Regions from separate parts of the Homo sapiens genome. Here all the other regions are linked to region 3. The links come from fine-mapping of genetic effects on plasma protein levels. Region 3 holds a variant in brackets. A gene starts in each other region. All regions are shown on their reverse strands.

What was found. PIP is the posterior inclusion probability: the model's chance that the variant is causal. The UK Biobank Pharma Proteomics Project read protein levels with antibody pairs (Olink). The fine-mapping took linkage between variants from a reference panel, not from the people measured, so its PIPs are less certain.
Region 1: ENO3 starts here. The variant in region 3 is fine-mapped to the plasma level of the ENO3 protein (UK Biobank, PIP above 0.99).
Region 2: it holds the start of S100A13, and the variant in region 3 is fine-mapped to the plasma level of the S100A13 protein (UK Biobank, PIP above 0.99).
Region 4: it holds the start of CPA4, and the variant in region 3 is fine-mapped to the plasma level of the CPA4 protein (UK Biobank, PIP above 0.99).

The regions. Positions count from the first base shown.
Region 1 is chr17:4,948,559-4,952,692 of GRCh38, reverse strand. ENO3 (enolase 3) reads right to left here and starts at 1,574. Exons shown (of 12, transcript NM_053013.4): 1 at 1,511-1,574; 2 at 779-865. The coding sequence starts at 863. RefSeq lists enhancers at 308-1,042, 3,204-3,373 and silencers at 2,424-2,653, 2,704-3,113, 3,574-3,823, 3,954-4,134.
Region 2 is chr1:153,623,969-153,628,099 of GRCh38, reverse strand. S100A13 (S100 calcium binding protein A13) reads left to right here and starts at 595. Exons shown (of 3, transcript NM_001024211.2): 1 at 595-617; 2 at 1,567-1,780. The coding sequence starts at 1,628. RefSeq lists an enhancer at 348-1,173.
Region 3 is chr19:54,250,578-54,254,734 of GRCh38, reverse strand. LILRB5 (leukocyte immunoglobulin like receptor B5) reads left to right here. Exons shown (of 13, transcript NM_001081442.3): 7 at 320-370; 8 at 667-717; 9 at 1,748-1,864; 10 at 2,186-2,249; 11 at 2,332-2,369; 12 at 2,629-2,681; 13 at 3,803-4,157. The coding sequence ends at 3,949. Among named protein-coding and RNA genes, the nearest start is that of LILRB5, 4.6 kb to the left of the region's middle. RefSeq lists an enhancer at 2,624-3,241. The variant A/G (reference allele first, on the strand shown) is at 1,941.
Region 4 is chr7:130,291,341-130,295,476 of GRCh38, reverse strand. CPA4 (carboxypeptidase A4) reads right to left here and starts at 2,316. Exons shown (of 11, transcript NM_016352.4): 1 at 2,229-2,316. The coding sequence starts at 2,296. RefSeq lists an enhancer at 1,822-1,911.

The sequences.
Region 1 (4,134 bases), not on the chromosome of region 3:
ATCAGGAGTTCAAGACCAGCCTGGCTAACATGGCGAAACCGTCTCTGCTAAAAATACAAAAATTAGCTGAGGCCGGGCGCGGTGGCTCACGCCTGTAATCCCAGCACTTTGGGAGGCCAAGGCGGGCGGATCACGAGATCAGGAGATCGAGACAATCCTGGCTGACACCGTGAAACCCCATCTCTACTAAAAATACAAAAAATTAGCTGTAGTCCCAGCTACTCGGGAGGCTGAGGCAGGAGAATGGCGTGAACCCGGGAGGCGGAGCTTGCAGTGAGCCTAGATCGCGCCACTGCACTCCAGCCTGGGCGACAGAGTGAGACTCCATCTCAAAAAAAAAAAAAAAAAATTAGCTGGGCGTGATGGCACAGGCCTGTAATCCCAGCTACTTGGGAGGCTGAGGCACAAGAATCACTTAAACCCGGGAGGCAGAGGTTGCAGTGAGCTGAGATTGCACCACTGCACTCCAGCCCGGGCCACAGAGCGAGACTCCATCTCAAAACAAAACAAAACAAAAAAAAGGACCTCACAGGGAGTCTCTCTACCTCTCAAAGGGCTGAGGTGTCCTCTCTGAGCTCAGGGACAGGAGGCAGTGCAGAGAGAGACTCCTGCTTCTCCTAGCTTCCAGCTCTGGTTCCACGTTGGAAGAAGGGGGCTTGGGAAGAAGTCTGGGAAAGGGAACCCGAGAGAAAGGAGAGGATATGGCACAGAACTGGGGGGCAAAGGCCAAAGGGTTGGGGTCTTCGGAGGCGAGCCTATCCAATGGGCCTTGTGTTACCCTTGGCCGTGTGCAGGTCCACCTCCACCGTGGGGTTGCCCCTGGAGTCCAAGATTTCCCGGGCAAAGATTTTCTGCATGGCCATGGCTGCAGGACAGGAGGTGTGAGTGAGTGTAGACAGTTGATCTCTTAAGGAACCAGAAATCCCTTGCCCTTTAAGATTCTTCCCCACTCCAAGAAGGCAGGTGCTGGAGCTAAAAATACCCTACAAAAAGGTCACAGACCAAAGAGGCAGGCGCAGCCCCCTCCCCCACTCAGAACAGCTCTTATTCCACCCTCCCATCCTAAGAATCCAGGGGCCTCTTATCTATAGCTCCTGGGATGCCACCGCTCACCAAGCCCCCACCTCCCCCAAGCCTCCACTTAGGCCTTCTCCTTCCACCCCTCTGGTCAAGCAGTCTGTTCTCCATGGCTGGTGGCCTTCAAATCCTTTCTGGTTCTCATTTTCCTGCTCCGAAATCTCCTTGGGCCCCCAATTCCCTATCAGGTTCCAGCTCTAGCTGCCCTTTTCTATCCATCCCTGCTGCCCTCCTCACAGCCTCCTTTCCCTAGATCCTTCGGTGTTCCCAGAGTTTGTCCCATCTGCTTGCTCCAGCCGCCCCTTCCCCCAGCTTTTTCAAGCATCTCCAGTCCCAGGAGGAAAAAAAGCAGAAATGTCCCCCACTTCCTCCAAGCCAATACCATGCTCACCCTTTACTACCTCCACCCCCAGGGCTGGAAGATTCACCCGACCTGGGATGTCTTCGCTGGAGGTTTGGATGGAGCTCCGAGTCTAGGTGGCAGCTGGGACAGTGTCAGCTCACCCCCTCTCAGGCTGCGCATTTATCCCTGAGCCACTCGGTCCCCAGCCAGCCCCGCCTCTCTTTCTCTCCATCCTCCCCCCTTCACACTGGGCTGGCAGCCAAGTGCCCACTACAGCCTGAAGCAGAAGCCTCTGGCCCTGGGCACCTGCCCCCTTACCAAAGGTCAACTACTATCCCCCACTTTCTGTCTCCCAATAACAGTCCCTGTTCTAATTCCACCCTTTGGGAGGAGCAAGGGAGGGGCTACAGATGAGGGGTCTCCCCCCACCCCAGGATTACATTCCCCTTTTGCAAACGTCAAGAGGAATGAGTGACCTTTAGGAAAGGCCAGGGGTAACCTGAGCCCTGCAAGGCTGGGGAGGGGGCCTGGAAGAGGGGCTGCAAGATTGACGTCCACACATGCTCAGATCGCTGGGCGGGCCTCTGTCCTCAGTGGGGGAAAGGACGGGACCCCCCACCCCAGAAGGCGAGAGGGTCTCACCTCTTAGGGTCCTCATAACGGCCATTCTCGGCGCCGCCCCATCCTACCCTCTCCAGGCCAGCCAGCGCCGGGATGAGTTAGGGGACAGGAAACGAATTTAGACAGGCCCTTTCGGCTGGCAAGGCGCCCGACTGATAACGCTGGGACAGCACTTGTCGCCCGGCGTGGGGACTGTCGGTCAGAGCCCCTTTCCCCATCGACTGTGGGCGCTCAGCGCACGGCCCCAGCCCATCAATGAATGGGGCTGAATCAACAGTGAACAAAAATGAATGGACCGAGGACGGGTGGCCTTTTGTGAGCTTCTGCACGCCTGGGGCTCTTCCGGCGCCCCACTTGTAGCACTGCGGGGAGGTAGGTCTCTGCCCTCGGTAGAGATCTCCACTTTGCCGGCTCTGGGGCCAGTGCGGGGTCTGCCCCGAGCTCCTCTGCAGCCATACCAGCCGACCGGCGGGGGACACACGGCGCCTCGGCCCGACTCGGAGGCCCTTCCCGTCGGCGCCGGGGCAGCGCGCGCCCGGTGACTCACCCCCGCCGCCCTCTCCCCACCCCTGCTCCCCGCCCCGCCGGCCCGCGCGGCCTCCCAGCCCCCACCCCAGGCCACCTGCCCCGCCACCCGTCCAGTCTCCCCTCTCGCCCCGCCCCCTCATCTCAGGCCGCTCCTCCCGGGATTTTTCCACCCTGGGGTAGGGGTGCGGTGGGCCAGGGGTCAGGAGATGGCGGGCGGGGAGCGCCGCCACGTGCCCGGGTGCGGCCCCGCCCGAGCCCGCCAGTGACTCAGCCGCGCGGCTGTCGAGGAACACGGACTCGAGGGGCGTCGGGGACTGTGGGATTCGGCGTGGACGCCAGGGATGCGCGCCGCGCTCGGGAGGAGAGAGAAAACCAACCCCCTTTCCGCCCGGGCCGCGCTCGGTGACCCCTTGCCCCTAGCCCAGGCTCCGGAAGCCGCCCAGCCCTCGGCGGCGGGTCGGAGGAGGCGGTTTCACCGCGGCCGCCGCACGGCCGTCCCGCCCGTCCCGCCCTCCCCAGGTGGCTGTGAGCGCACATCTGACTGCGAAGAAACCCAAAGGGCCCGAAGTGGGACTTTCCCCTTCTTGAAAAAGTTGCCACTCTTGCAACTTGAGTATTCTTCCGCCTCGAAAAATAGCCCCGCCTGTTAAGCCCCGCGGGTGTCCGCGCTCTGTGACCTCTGCAGACACAGGCCAAGGGGCACGGCCGGTGATCCAGACATTGCCTGCCTGGGGCGGGCGGGGCTGGGATGTGGGGTGAGGCCCTGGGCTAGAGCCGATCCAGAGAAGGGACAATCCTCTAGACTGAGAATGGGCCCTGGTGAACCCAACCTGCACGACCCGAGAAGACGCTGGGGACAGAAGTGGCCCCGGTGGGTGCCTTCAGCTATGAGAGCGACTAGAGGATTTGGCCAAACTCTTCTTTGCTTTCTTATTACTTGAATAAGTAAAATCAAGGGTGGTGAGGCGGCAGCGCGCACGGCTTCGCCCCCGCCCCTTCCGCCAGGCGGGAGACACGTCCCCAGCCCGCCTTCCTTTCCCGCAGGGTCCACACGGGTCGGGCCGGGCGCGCTCCCGTGCAGCCGGCTCCGGCCCCGACCGCCCCATGCACTCCCGGCCCCGGCGCAGGCGCAGGCGCGGGCACACGCGCCGCCGCCCGCCGGTCCTTCCCTTCGGCGGAGGTGGGGGAAGGAGGAGTCATCCCGTTTAACCCTGGGCTCCCCGAACTCTCCTTAATTTGCTAAATTTGCAGCTTGCTAATTCCTCCTGCTTTCTCCTTCCTTCCTTCTTCTGGCTCACTCCCTGCCCCGATACCAAAGTCTGGTTTATATTCAGTGCAAATTGGAGCAAACCCTACCCTTCACCTCTCTCCCGCCACCCCCCATCCTTCTGCATTGCTTTCCATCGAACTCTGCAAATTTTGCAATAGGGGGAGGGATTTTTAAAATTGCATTTGCAAAGTTCGGTGTCTGGGCTGGCGAGTGGGGGAGGGAGGGAATGGGGAGTAGGCCCCGCCCCTACCGTCCTTTGCAAATAAAAATCTAGCGGGGCGGGGGGGGGGAGGAG
Region 2 (4,131 bases), not on the chromosome of region 3:
GGGGGTCTTAGTCTGTGGCTCCTCCATGGGGCCTCACTGAGAGGACCCTCAGTGAGAAACTTAGTCTTGGGAGTCTGAGAACCCACAGAGGGATTTCAATCCAGGACTCTTCTCTGGGGGTCTCAACCTGGATCCCCCTCTGTGTGTGGGGCCTCAGCCTGGGGTTCTCTGAGGGATCTTGGTCTGTAGCATCCTTTGTGGGATCTCATTCCAAGGGGCCTCTGTGTGTGTCTCAGATTGGGCCTCTCAGTGTTGAGCTCCCTTGATTGGTTGCCTCCCTCTTCCCCCCTCAGCATACACACTCCTGATTAGACATGGGTATGGTGGCAGCAGCCCCCAGTATTGAGAGGACTAGGACCCTGGGACCCCTGCCGAACGAGATCTGTCCAGGCAGCTCCTCTCCCTGACCAAGTGGGGGCGCTCGTGTGGCTGGCAGGGAGCCCGGGTCCAGACCTGAGGGCTCAGGGCAAGCGGCCTGATTGGGCTGTCTCTGGTCTTCAGAATCGACCACGGAAATTTGACACCTCCGGGCTTGGAAGCAGCTCTCTCCTCCTTCCCCGCTGCTTATAAACCTCAGCCCTGAGGCTCCAGCTCACTCTACCCCATCTCCTTGCCGGGTGAGTCTCATGGCTGACCCTGGAGGGAGGCTGGAGATCATTTTTTCTTCCTGGGCTCCCAGGTCCCTCCCCCAGAGCCAGCTCAGACAGGAATTCAGGAAGGAGCTTTGGATGATCGAGCAACAGCGCGTGCAGGAGTGTGTGACGGGGTGGACAGAAAAGAGAATGCCTCTTCCAGCCCCACCCGCCGCACCCCAGGGGGTTGTGAGTGCCTGTACTAAACCCGTCCTGGAGCAGGGAGTCAGAGACGCCCCGTTCCAGGACCCTTGTCACCGGGAGACAGGAGCGGGGAGGATCTGTGGGGTCCTGGGTTCAGCACTCTGCCCTGCTGCCGCTGAGGAGAGGTAAGGGTGGAGCGGGGCAGAGAAAATGGGTCTGTTCAGACGGAGCCAGCTCTGACCACAGGGGACATTTGCCAGACCCTGTGCTTCTCTGCTGGGAGGAGCGGTTAGAGTGTGTGTGGGCGGATGCGAGTGGCCGGAGACCAGGGCCCAACATAAACAAGCTTTGGAGACAAACAACCTTATGACCTGTGAGTCTGGGTGAGACAAGAAGGGATTCTTGAGACAGACACGCCACAGAGGGGCCACCAGACTTGAAGGACTCCAAGAAGGACCTTCAACTGAAGACCTCCTCTCAAGTAGAGGGGTCTCCAGATCGAGGGATCACCACAGAGGGGTCCCTAAGCCACAGACATTTAAAAAGGATCCCGGATTGTGAGACCTACAGAAGAGGGGGTTTCTGGAGCTGAATCTCCTGCCCCCACCAAAACTGAGATGCCGTTGCCTGGTCTGCTGCCCCAAGCTCAACCCCTGTCCTCTCCCTCTTTCCCCATATGCCCCCTCCAGGCTGAGACTGATGTGATAACACCAAGGCAGGGACCTTCTGAACCATTCCTGCATCTTGGGGCTCCCTGACTCTCCCTCTCTGCTCCTTCTCTCTTCCACAGGTCAGCCCTGACAAAGGTCAGCTAGCCCCTTGAGGACATCAGCTTTGGCCTCAGGGTCCTAATGGCAGCAGAACCACTGACAGAGCTAGAGGAGTCCATTGAGACCGTGGTCACCACCTTCTTCACCTTTGCAAGGCAGGAGGGCCGGAAGGATAGCCTCAGCGTCAACGAGTTCAAAGAGCTGGTTACCCAGCAGTTGCCCCATCTGCTCAAGGTAGGCAGAAGTCTGGGACTGAGATTTTGTGAGATGATGATTATGGGACACTGTGTTTAGGACGTGATGGTGCCGAGTACGGTGAGGTGACCACAAGAAAGGGTGTGGGTGGCTGCATGTGTCAATGGTTGCAGGTTTTCTTTTGTTTTTTCGAGACAAAGTCTCACTCTGTTGCCCAGGCCGGAGTGCAGTGGTGTGATCTTGGCTCACTGCAACCTCCATCTCCGGGGTTCAAGTGATTCTCCTGCCTCAGCCTCCTGAGTAGCTGGGATTACAGGTGTGTGCCACCACGCCGAGCCTATTTCTGTATTTTTAGTAGAGACAGGGTTTCACCAGGTTGGCCAGGCTGGTCTCGAACTCCTGACCTCAGGTGATCCACCCGCCTCGGCCTCCCAAAGTGCTGTGGTTACAGGCGCAAGCCACTGCGCCTGACCCGGTTGTGAGTTTTCTTGCCTGGTGTGTACATGTGTGTGTTTGTGTGTCCATGCATATAATTAGGTAAGCAAAGATACTATGTGCCAGTGGGAGTATGGTCTTGTGTCAGAAGATGCTGTTGGGTTCTTGTGTATGCTCTGTGCCTTTCTGGTCTAATTTCCCCAAGACAGGACTGGACCCAGAGCTGGCTTCCAGGAGATTCACAGACTGTCAGAGCTGGAAGGAGGCCAAGAGAAAACACAGTCCGCATTCCTCACTTCACATATATGGAAACTGAGGCCTAGCAGTGGAAAGGGGCTTATCAAAAATGAAAACACAGCCAAATTCATGGAGTCATAGACCTCAGTGTAGGGGGTCTGTGGGTGCATCTGTGAAGACTCCCTACCCGCTATGGGCATCCCCTTACTAGGGTGTAAGAGTCATTCCTTCTCTCGCACTCACAGGCTGGAGTCAGGTCTTAAATTTCATCGACTCTGGCCTCGAAGAGGCCTGGTCATTCTGGCTGTTGACAGTTTGTTTTACATCCTTTCTGAAAATCCACAGGCACGTTGAAGTGTGTGAATATGGACTCCTTGAACACAGTGAGTCTCTGAAACTCATGGTCTTTCATCTGCAAAATCCCCTACAACTTCCAACTTCTCAGACTTTTTTTTGAGACAGGGTTTCTCACTCTGTTGCCCAGGCCACTGTGCGATCACAGCTCATTGCATCCTTGACCTTCCGGGCTCAGGCAATCCTCCTGCCCCAGCCTCACAAGTAGCTGGGACCACAGGCGCATGCCACACTGCCTGGCTAATTTTTTCTTTTTTTGTGACAGAGTCTCACTCTGTCACCGAGGCTGGAGTGCAATGGTGCGATCTTGGCTCACTGCAACCTCTGCCTCCTGGGTTCAAGTGGTTCTCTTACCTCAGCCTCATGAGTAGCTGGGATTACAGGCAACCGCCACCATGCCTGGATAATTTTTGTATTTTTAGTAGAGACGGGGTTTCACTATGTTGGCCAGGCTGGTTTCGAACTCCTGATCTCAGGTGATCCACCTGCCTCGGCCTCTCAAAGTGCTGGAATTACAGGCGTGAGCCACCGCGCCTGGCCTAATTTTTAAGTTACTTGTAGAGATGTGGTCTCTCTGTGTTTCCCAAGCTGGTCTCAAACTCTAGGCCTCAAGTGATCCTCCTGCATTGGCCTTCCAAAGTGTTGGGATTACAGTCATGAGCCACTGTGCCCAGCCAGACGTTTCCTTTTTCATCTTTTTTACTGGAAACTTCAGGTTCTCTCCTGAAGGGACAGCATTCCTTATATCCTTGTCAAGCAGTGATTGTGGTTTTTTTTTTTTTTTTCCTAAATTCAACTTCCTCTGGGCCTGGAAATGGAGGAAGTGACCTCTCTGCTTTCCATTATCTCTAGATTTTAGTTTCTTCTTCTTTCTAAGACTTCCCAGCGCCTTGGAAGATCATCTGCCACCTGCCATTCTTCTTATTGCGCTCCTTACAGCTCTTCAGCTCCTGGCTCACTGTTTTCTTCTCATCACTGCTTCTGTTGTTATTCTCAGTGGCTTCAGCATCCGCACAGACAATTCATCCAACATCTGGGCCTTTCAATTTTCTCAACTCCTCATTTCCAAAAAGATTTGTCTTCTTACATCTCAGCATCCCACTCCTCTGTTCATGCTTTAGACTGTGTCATTAACAAAATAACGCACAACTTCCAAAATCTTGATTTCAAGTTTCCCTTTATCTGCTGACCTCCTCCTGTCATTCCAGTTCTGTTCCCCTCTCTAGCTTCTCCACTTCAGCACTTCCCTGACTCCTCAGGTACCTTCAGTCTCTCGACCCTCTCACTTTTGCATCTTCCATCAACATCCCTCGGGTCCTCATTGCCCTTCCTCCTCACCTCAGGTTCTAAGGCTTCTAATTGTA
Region 3 (4,157 bases):
GTGAGGGCCCTGACCCTGTCCTGTCCAAGCTCAAAGGCTCAGCTCAGGCCCTGCCCCCAGGAGAGCTCTGGGCTGGGATGGAGTCGCGGTGCGGGGGGGAGGGTTTGAGGGGGGCTCAGCCAGAGGGAGACTCACCCCTCAGAGGGGAGGAGGACAACGGGGGCTCCCCAGGCATGCCCACACTTGGCCCCATCTCCTGGGATGCAAATGGTGAAAGGTGAGCAGAAGAAAGTTTCCAGAGAAGCCACGGGCAGGTGGAGGGACGGGTTTCCTCACTCAGCACCAAAGCGCCTCGCTCCCTTTCTGTGCTTATTCCCAGGACCCTCTGGGGATCCCAGCCTCTCACCTACAGGCTCCACCCCCACACCTGGTGAGTCACTGAGGCCTCTGGGCTCGGAGGGAGCGTGGTCTCCCCCCAGGCAGCCCTGAGTCTCCCCGAGGATCCTATTCCCCTCAAAGACTCAAGCGGGAGCTTCCCTCCAGGGAGCTGGGCAGAGCCAGAGGAGGGGCCACAGGCTCCCCGGGGCTCTGAGGCTGGGCCGGTGAGGGGGCGGGCGTCGAGGCAGAGAGAGATGTTGGGTGTTGGGGCCCAGCCTGGGGGAGGAGCAGCCGGGCTGATGTGGGGAGCAGGGCAGCCCCAGCCCTCACCTCCCCGTCCTGACCCAGCAGGCCCTGAGGACCAGCCCCTCACCCCCACGGGGTTGGATCCCCAGAGTGGTGAGTGAGGGGCTCTGAGTGGGAGGTGGGCGGAGACCAGGGGAGGCAGGGGTGGGTTCTGTCGTAGGTTCAGGCTCCTCTGGAGATGGTGAAGTGCACAAGCCCTTCCCCTGCCTGGGCCTCAGTTTCTCCAAGTGTAAAGGAGAGAGGCCTGCATTGATGGGATTCTTCAGGGGACTGTCCTGTCCCACCGGCAGCAGTGACGGTGACCTGGGGCAGGGGAGGGGAGCAGGGCCGTGGTTTGGGGCATTCAGGCTCTTTCCCTGCAGCTCCGGGGCTCCGCTCAGGTGCAGAGAACAAGGGCTGCGGGTCAGACTCCTGGGTTCACTTCCCAGCTCTGCCGCATCCCACCGTGGGCCCAGGCAGGTCAACTTTCTACTCTGACTCAGTTTCAGCAGCTGTAAACTGGCTCAGTCCCATCCAGCTCACAGAACTGCTGCGAGGCGTAAGCAAAATCATGGGACCTGGCCCTGTACACAGCTCGGCAGGGGCACCGTCCTCCTGCTACCCTCAGCCCTTCCCAGATACACACAGAGCCCCTATCCAGACAGGTTCTGCATGGGAGTATGGGAACTTGGCAGAGTGGGAAACGGACCTGGCTGAGCTGGGAGTGAGAGCAATGCAGGGTCCGTCCTGCACAACCCACTCCCTCTCCCAGGCCCTGCTGTGCTGGGGAAGGGAGGATCCTAAGAAGGACACCAGCCCCAGATGGAGACACTAGGACAGGCCCCTCCTGTCAAATAGGAAACAGGTGTGCACCTGGTGGGGCAGCAGGAGGACAGCTGGGGAAAACACAAAGTCCCTGGTTCCCTTCCCAGACCTGCTTCTTCCAGGCTGAGGAGCCTGGGGCAGGCGATTCCCCTCTCTGAGCCTCAGTTTGCTCCTCTGTGAATTGGGGGGTTGGCAATCCCATGTTGCACAACTGCTGTGAGGGTTGGAGCTCATGAAGGAAAGACCTAGCTCGCGCCTGCACACAGAAGGTGCTCACATCAATGACGTCATCCCCATTCCCAACGTCATCACGCTCAAGGTCTGGGAAGGCACCTGGGGGTTGTGACTGGGGTCTCAGTGGCCTTCGTCCTGCTGCTGTTCCTCCTCCTCTTCCTCCTCCTCCGACATCGGCATCAGAGCAAACACAGGACATCGGGTGAGTAGGGAATGGGGGAACCCGTGGGCCGACCGAGGGTGGGCTCGGGGCACCAGCCAGAGGGAAACCAAACACA[A/G]AGGAAAGTCAGCTTAGAAAAACTGCTCCAGAAATTCCCAGGTGAAAAATCGATCGAGAAAGAAGAGAATAAATGTGAGCATGTGTGGAAGTGCTTGATTCTTCTGATTTTACTTTAAACTTACGACGTATTTAAAGCCTCAGTGCCAGTGGGCCTCCAGGTTTCCTTCTTTCCGCTCGAGTTGTGTGTGCAGGGCAGCTGGTTCGAATTCTCCCAGGCCTGACCCTCTGTCCATCTCTGTCCAGCCCATTTCTACCGTCCTGCAGGGGCTGCGGGGCCAGAGCCCAAGGACCAGGGCCTGCAGAAGAGGTAATTCTGCATGAAGACCCAAGACTCCCATCCACCCGCACAGCCCCCTCACTGCCCCTCACACTCCCGTGTCCTCCCCCAGGGCCAGCCCAGTTGCTGACATCCAGGAGGAAATTCTCAGTGAGTGACTAGAAGCGGAGGGCACCTGGGGTGGGCAAGGGAGCACCAAAGTTTCTGTAGCAATGGGGGCAGGAGCACAGGCTGGGGGGGGTCTGGGGCCAAGGGGGAGGCGGTCTGAACCCACACTGTGGGACCTCAGGGACATCACAGTCCCTCCCTGGATCTCAGCCACCCTAGTGGGAACAGGGCAAGGGCTGGCAGGACGGAGAAGTCTCAGAGAACCTTCCCAGGAGATGAACCCCTTGCTCTGGCCCAGCAGATGCTGCCGTGAAGGACACACAGCCCAAGGACGGGGTGGAGATGGATGCTCCGGTGAGGCCCCGCCCCTGTCCCGGGCACCAAAGGCCTCCTGGTGCCAGATCTAATCCAGCAGGACTTCTCTGTCCTCCTTCCCCCGGCTCTCAGCATCGTCACGGTGGACCCCTCCTTGTCCAGCACGCTGCCTCCCGCCTGCTGCGACCTCACTCTCTTCTGCTGTCCTGGGACCTCGTGGGCCTCCTCCCGGGTCCCCTTCCTGCTCCTCATCCTCTGTTTGGCCGTCTGGTTGTTAGAGCTCTCCCCAGGCCTCAGGAGGATGAGGAATAAATGAACCGACCCGGTCCCCCAGGCTCCCCTTCATTCATTCAACCAGCGAGTGTTCCCAGGGAGCTCACTGTGGATGGGGCTCCCCATGGGAGCTGCAGACACAGCAGGGAGCAAAGCCGCCCCCGCCTCCTGAGCTCACCTCATGGTGGGAGACAAAATGCAAATAAATGCATCGTGTCCAGGAGTGCAACGTGCTGTAAGGAACATAAACCAGGGAAAGGGCAGAGAGTGTGGGGCAGTGGGGCCAGTCTGAATGGAAGGGGAGGGCTGTCTGCTCAGCTGTCATCTGAGAAGCCTGGACAGAGTGGGGCACACGATCCTCTGATGGACGAGCCCCTGCAGGCAGAGGAAACAGCCGTGCAAAGGCCCCGAGGCAGCAGCGAGCTCTTGCGGGAAGGCCCGTGAGGCTGCAGCCAAATGGGCAAGGTCAGAGTGAGGAGCAGAGGCCAGAACCACAGGGAGGGAGCGGCCAGACCCTCCACGGCCTTAGGGCGTCCCTGAGATTCCATCAGGAAAGGGATGTAATCGGATCACCCCGGGAACAGTGAGGAAAATTGACTCCAGGAGGTCAGGGGGACTCAAGGACACCCCCCACCACTGTCTCTCTCCAGCAGAGCCCACACGATGAAGACCCCCAGGCAGTGACGTATGCCCCGGTGAAACACTCCAGACCTAGGAGAGAAATGGCCTCTCCTCCTTCCCCACTGTCTGGGGAATTCCTGGACACAAAGGACAGACAGGCAGAAGAGGACAGACAGATGGACACTGAGAGAGTCCTTTCCTCTCCAGGCCCCCAGGCCTCCCCCACCCCCACCACGTTCCTTCCCTCTCACTCTCCCCCGCTGCAGGCTGCTGCATCTGAAGCCCCCCAGGATGTGACCTACGCCCAGCTGCACAGCTTGACCCTCAGACGGGAGGCAACTGAGCCTCCTCCATCCCAGGAAAGGGAACCTCCAGCTGAACCCAGCATCTACGCCCCCCTGGCCATCCACTAGCCCACGGGGGACCCAGATCTCATACTCAACAGAAGGAGACTCAGAGACTCCAGAAGGCACAGGAGCTGCCCCCAGTGGACACCAATGAACCCCAGCCAGCCTGGACCCCTAACAAAGACCACCAGGACATCCTGGGAACTCTGGGACTCACTAGATTCTGCAGTCAAAGATGACTAATATCCTTGCATTTTTGAAATGAAGCCACAGA
Region 4 (4,136 bases), not on the chromosome of region 3:
TGGCCTGGGAGGGGGACGTGTTGGGATTCACAGGTGGCCATGTCTGCCCCTCCTGCTCCACACAGGTGTTCTCACAGCTCCTCTTAACTTGATCCTCTCCAATAGACAGGGCGTCCAGCTGCTGCCATTGCAATGGCTGGCACTCCCACTCCCTCACCCTCACAGGAGTCTGTGCTTTGGACAGTCAATACCCACTTTGGTGACTGAGCATCTATCCCTCCCCTTTCACCATGCTGACAGCCAAGTGGCCCGTCCTTTGTGCCTTTCTCATCTGCCTCCCTAGCCAGGCTTAGCAGCCACCACAAAGAATATTAAGAGATGGTTTCATAGAACTCTTAGATGCCTGCCAGCTACTGTTGATGCTGTAACCAGCTCTGCAACTGGTTCCTGTTCTCTGCCTGCCTGGTGCCTCTAGGCATCCTGGCCATTGTCCCATCCTGAAGATCTCTGAAGACCAGGGCAGAAGACTCCAGTAGAGCAAGAGAGACTGGGGAGATAGGTGAGGCAGATGGAAGGGAGGGGAATGGGTGGTGGGTGGTGGGGAGAAACCATCATCCTCATCTTCAGCAGCCAATCCAGAGCCTGGCTTCCCAACCACTTGAATGCTCAGAGGCCAGCTTCCCCTTGCTCTAAATGTTCCCCTTGCTCTAAAAGCTGGGTGTCTGGGACACCTCTAGAGAGCCCAGGAAGAATTCCACTACCTTTGCTAGGTTTCCTACTATGGCGTGAGAATGGATTTGGGGATGAGAATGACACTATCAGTTCAAACCATCTGCAGTCAGCTCAGGCACACAGCTTTTTCTGTGCAAAATTCCTGCAGAGAGCATTCTAGGGCCTGGCCCAGCTGTCGCAGCCCAGGTGCCCACCACATTGCAAGAGAGGTCTGTATCTTGCGAAATAGAGATTTTTCAGCCACATGAATAGCTGCAGTGGGAGCCTGACAGTTCCATGCGTCAGCCCACACGGCAGCAAGTCTAGTCACTACACACCTACTGCTGAGCCGCCTGTGGGAAAATCTTCCCTGGCCACCTGCCACTCCTAACCCCTCTGAGCTATTTGGCAACAGAGACACAGGTGTGAACAGAAGTCATCATCATAAAACTTAGTCAATCTCATATAAGTAATTACCTCAAAAAACAACCCCAAAGTCTCATTAGCCAGATAGTAAAATAGAAAGAAAACTAAGAGACAGATCCAAGAGATATAGGATTTTATTTGGAGATGAACTTGTGTTATAGCAAAAGGGTACGAGTTTTACGTTCAGAGTTCCAGCTCCCCTGCTTCCCAGCTAAGTGGCCTTGAGCGCGTTCCTTAACATTCTAAGGCTGATTTTTTTCATGTTTAAGTGGAAGAAAATAACACCCCTGCCTGGCAAAGTTGTTGTGTGATCAAAAAGATAATGTACATGAAAGCTCTTTGCAAATGGTAAAGTATTATGCAGTAATGAGTTATTATAATTCAGTCTTCTAACAGGGCACCATGGTATCCCTTTTATCTCTCCTACCACCCAAATGTCCTCTCCCCTGCAAACCTCAAAGTATTCTGCATGGAGCGTGTTGAGCACGTGTGTGTGTGCACACACACACGCGCACACACACACGGTGTTCAGGCATGTGTCTCTGCATGTCATTTTCATAGCTGTGTCTAGGCAAGACCTGTGAAATCTCCACGTCCCAGAAGCCAGTAAGAAAGCACCAGCTCAGAAGAGGGTGTAGCTCAGGGGTAGAGCATTAAACTGCAGATCAAGAGAAGGCACCAGCTCTGCAAAGCCTTCGCCATTAACAAAGAAGTGAAACCAACAAGCTTGAGACCCAGGGTTTCCCTTTATGCATGGCGGAAATTGGAAACAAACCATTTCTGGTAACCAGTAACTCTTAGTAATTAATAACGTAGCTCTTAGTAACCAGTAACTCTTAGTAATTAATAAGGTAGGAGTAAGAAAGTAGATGCCTGGAACTGACCTTATAAGTAAGAACTAGGCAGAAAAAGAACTGGCAGGAGATGAGGGAGCTGGGGAGAGACTGCAATGATCATCTAGTCCTGATTTCACAGATGAAATGGGGTCTCAGAGAAGAGAGTGGACTTGTCCAGGATGACACAGGGGCAAAGCTGGAACAAGAGCCCAGGTCTTCTTCCTCCATGTGAGCTATTATCAGCCATTCATTTTCAGTTCCATTTGGCTCCCATATTTCTGAAATAACCAAATAATAAGTCCAAAAGGAACTTACCCAAAAAATTTTTCTTGGCCACAGATGCTGGACCCAATAAGGGCCCCAATGAACAGTATCCACCTCATGTCCCCGGGGAGTCAGTCATACAGTGGCTGAGTCAAGCTGTATTTATAAAGAGTCTGAGAGTGACTCAAGTCCTCAAAAATGCTAATGTGATTCCCAAGCACCCTTGCAACTCTGACTGTGACAGGCAGGCCCTACCAATGCCTCTCCCATTCCTTTCAAGTGATAAAGGTTGAGCATCTCAATTTACAAGGTCAGGAACTTGCTCCAGGAGCTGAAAAAGTCTGTGCCAAGGGTACCATATTGCTCATCACTTGGCATTTAAATAGTGTTTTTTCAGTGAATAAGCTAATTCCACAGTGTTGGATGGAATTTATCCTGATAGGAGAGGTCAGATTATAAACCTGGCATAGAATTACCTCTAGAATAATAATAAAAAAGTTAAGACTATCAAAGCAAGACTGAGCTGGCTCCAAGACCACATGCTTGACAAGCCCTGCCAGAGAATTTCACCAGGGCAGGTCAGGATGAGGAAAGAGGTTTGGGGCCTCTTTTATGTATCTGAAGCCTAATTCTTCTGACTCCACTAAGGAAATAGAAATGTATCAGGCAAATGATATAGAAAGGATGTTTTAGTCTGAATAAATTATCAGTGTTCCTTGGGGTCTGATCTATGGGGAAGGCTTAATGGTTTTATCAATAATAAGATTTTCAGCCGGGCGAGGTGGCTCATGCCTGTAATCCTAGCACTTTGGGAGGCCGAGGTGGGCGGATCACGAGGTCAGGAGATTGAGACCATCCTGGCTATCACAGTGAAACCTCGTCTCTACTAAAAATACAAAAAATTAGCCGGGCGTGGTGGCGGACGCCTGTAGTCCCAGCTACTCAGGAGAATGGCGTGAACCTGGGAGGCGGAGCTTGCAGTGAGCCGAGATCGCACCACTGCACTCCAGCCTGGGCGACAGAGTGAGACTCCATCTCAAATAAATAAATAAATAAATAATAAGATTTTCTTATACTTCCTAGACTGTGGGTCTGGTGTCCTTTCCGCCAAGTCACAGCTGAATAAATGGAAGACACTCATATCTCCATAACGCCTTCAGGGGCTCTGGGACCTTTGAGTCTGTCCTGGGAGCCCCAGTTCCCACAGCCTTTCCCATCCCACCCTCCCTACGGTCTACATGCTTTCCACACCCACTCAAAGGGAGTGGACACAACCAAGGGTCATAGTTGAGAGAGTTAAAGAAAAACTATCCTGACCTGTGTTAAAATGTAAGACCTAATTCAAGATTATTATGATTAGGACCATGGCTATTTCAGTAGGAAAGACTTACTGTGCTTAACACTGAATACGGCAAAGAAAACAGAGAGGATCAGTGGGATTACTAAGAGAAGACATCAAGGTAGGGGGATTCTTGCTAAAAGCAGGCCAAGGACTTATACATCAAAGTCCCCATCAAAGGTGGGGATGAGGAACTTGATCAGATATCAAGGTGGGAGGGATGACTTCGCAGGATCTTTGCTCAGGCTGGCTTAGCCAGGGCTCAAGAACCAGCCTAATCAAAAGGAGGGTGCAGAATCTCAAGTGTGGTCCCAGAGAGAGCCTTTGTTAGGAGCTGTGGAGCTAGGGGCCATCATCTCCTCTTGCTCCCTCAGGGTCCTTTTGTCCTCTCAACACTTCAACTGAATTCCTACACCCACCCTGTCCACCACAAAGCGTGGGCTCAGCGTCACTGAGATCGATGTCAGCTTTGAAGTCAGCAACAAGAACAACTGAGACCCAAATCTGTAAGAGATGTGAAGTGGGAGAATCAAGGACCAAGCATTCTAGGCAAGCTGAAATTTAGTTCCTACCTTTTCTCCCAGGGAAAATCATCCACATGAAGAAAACCTAAATCCCTA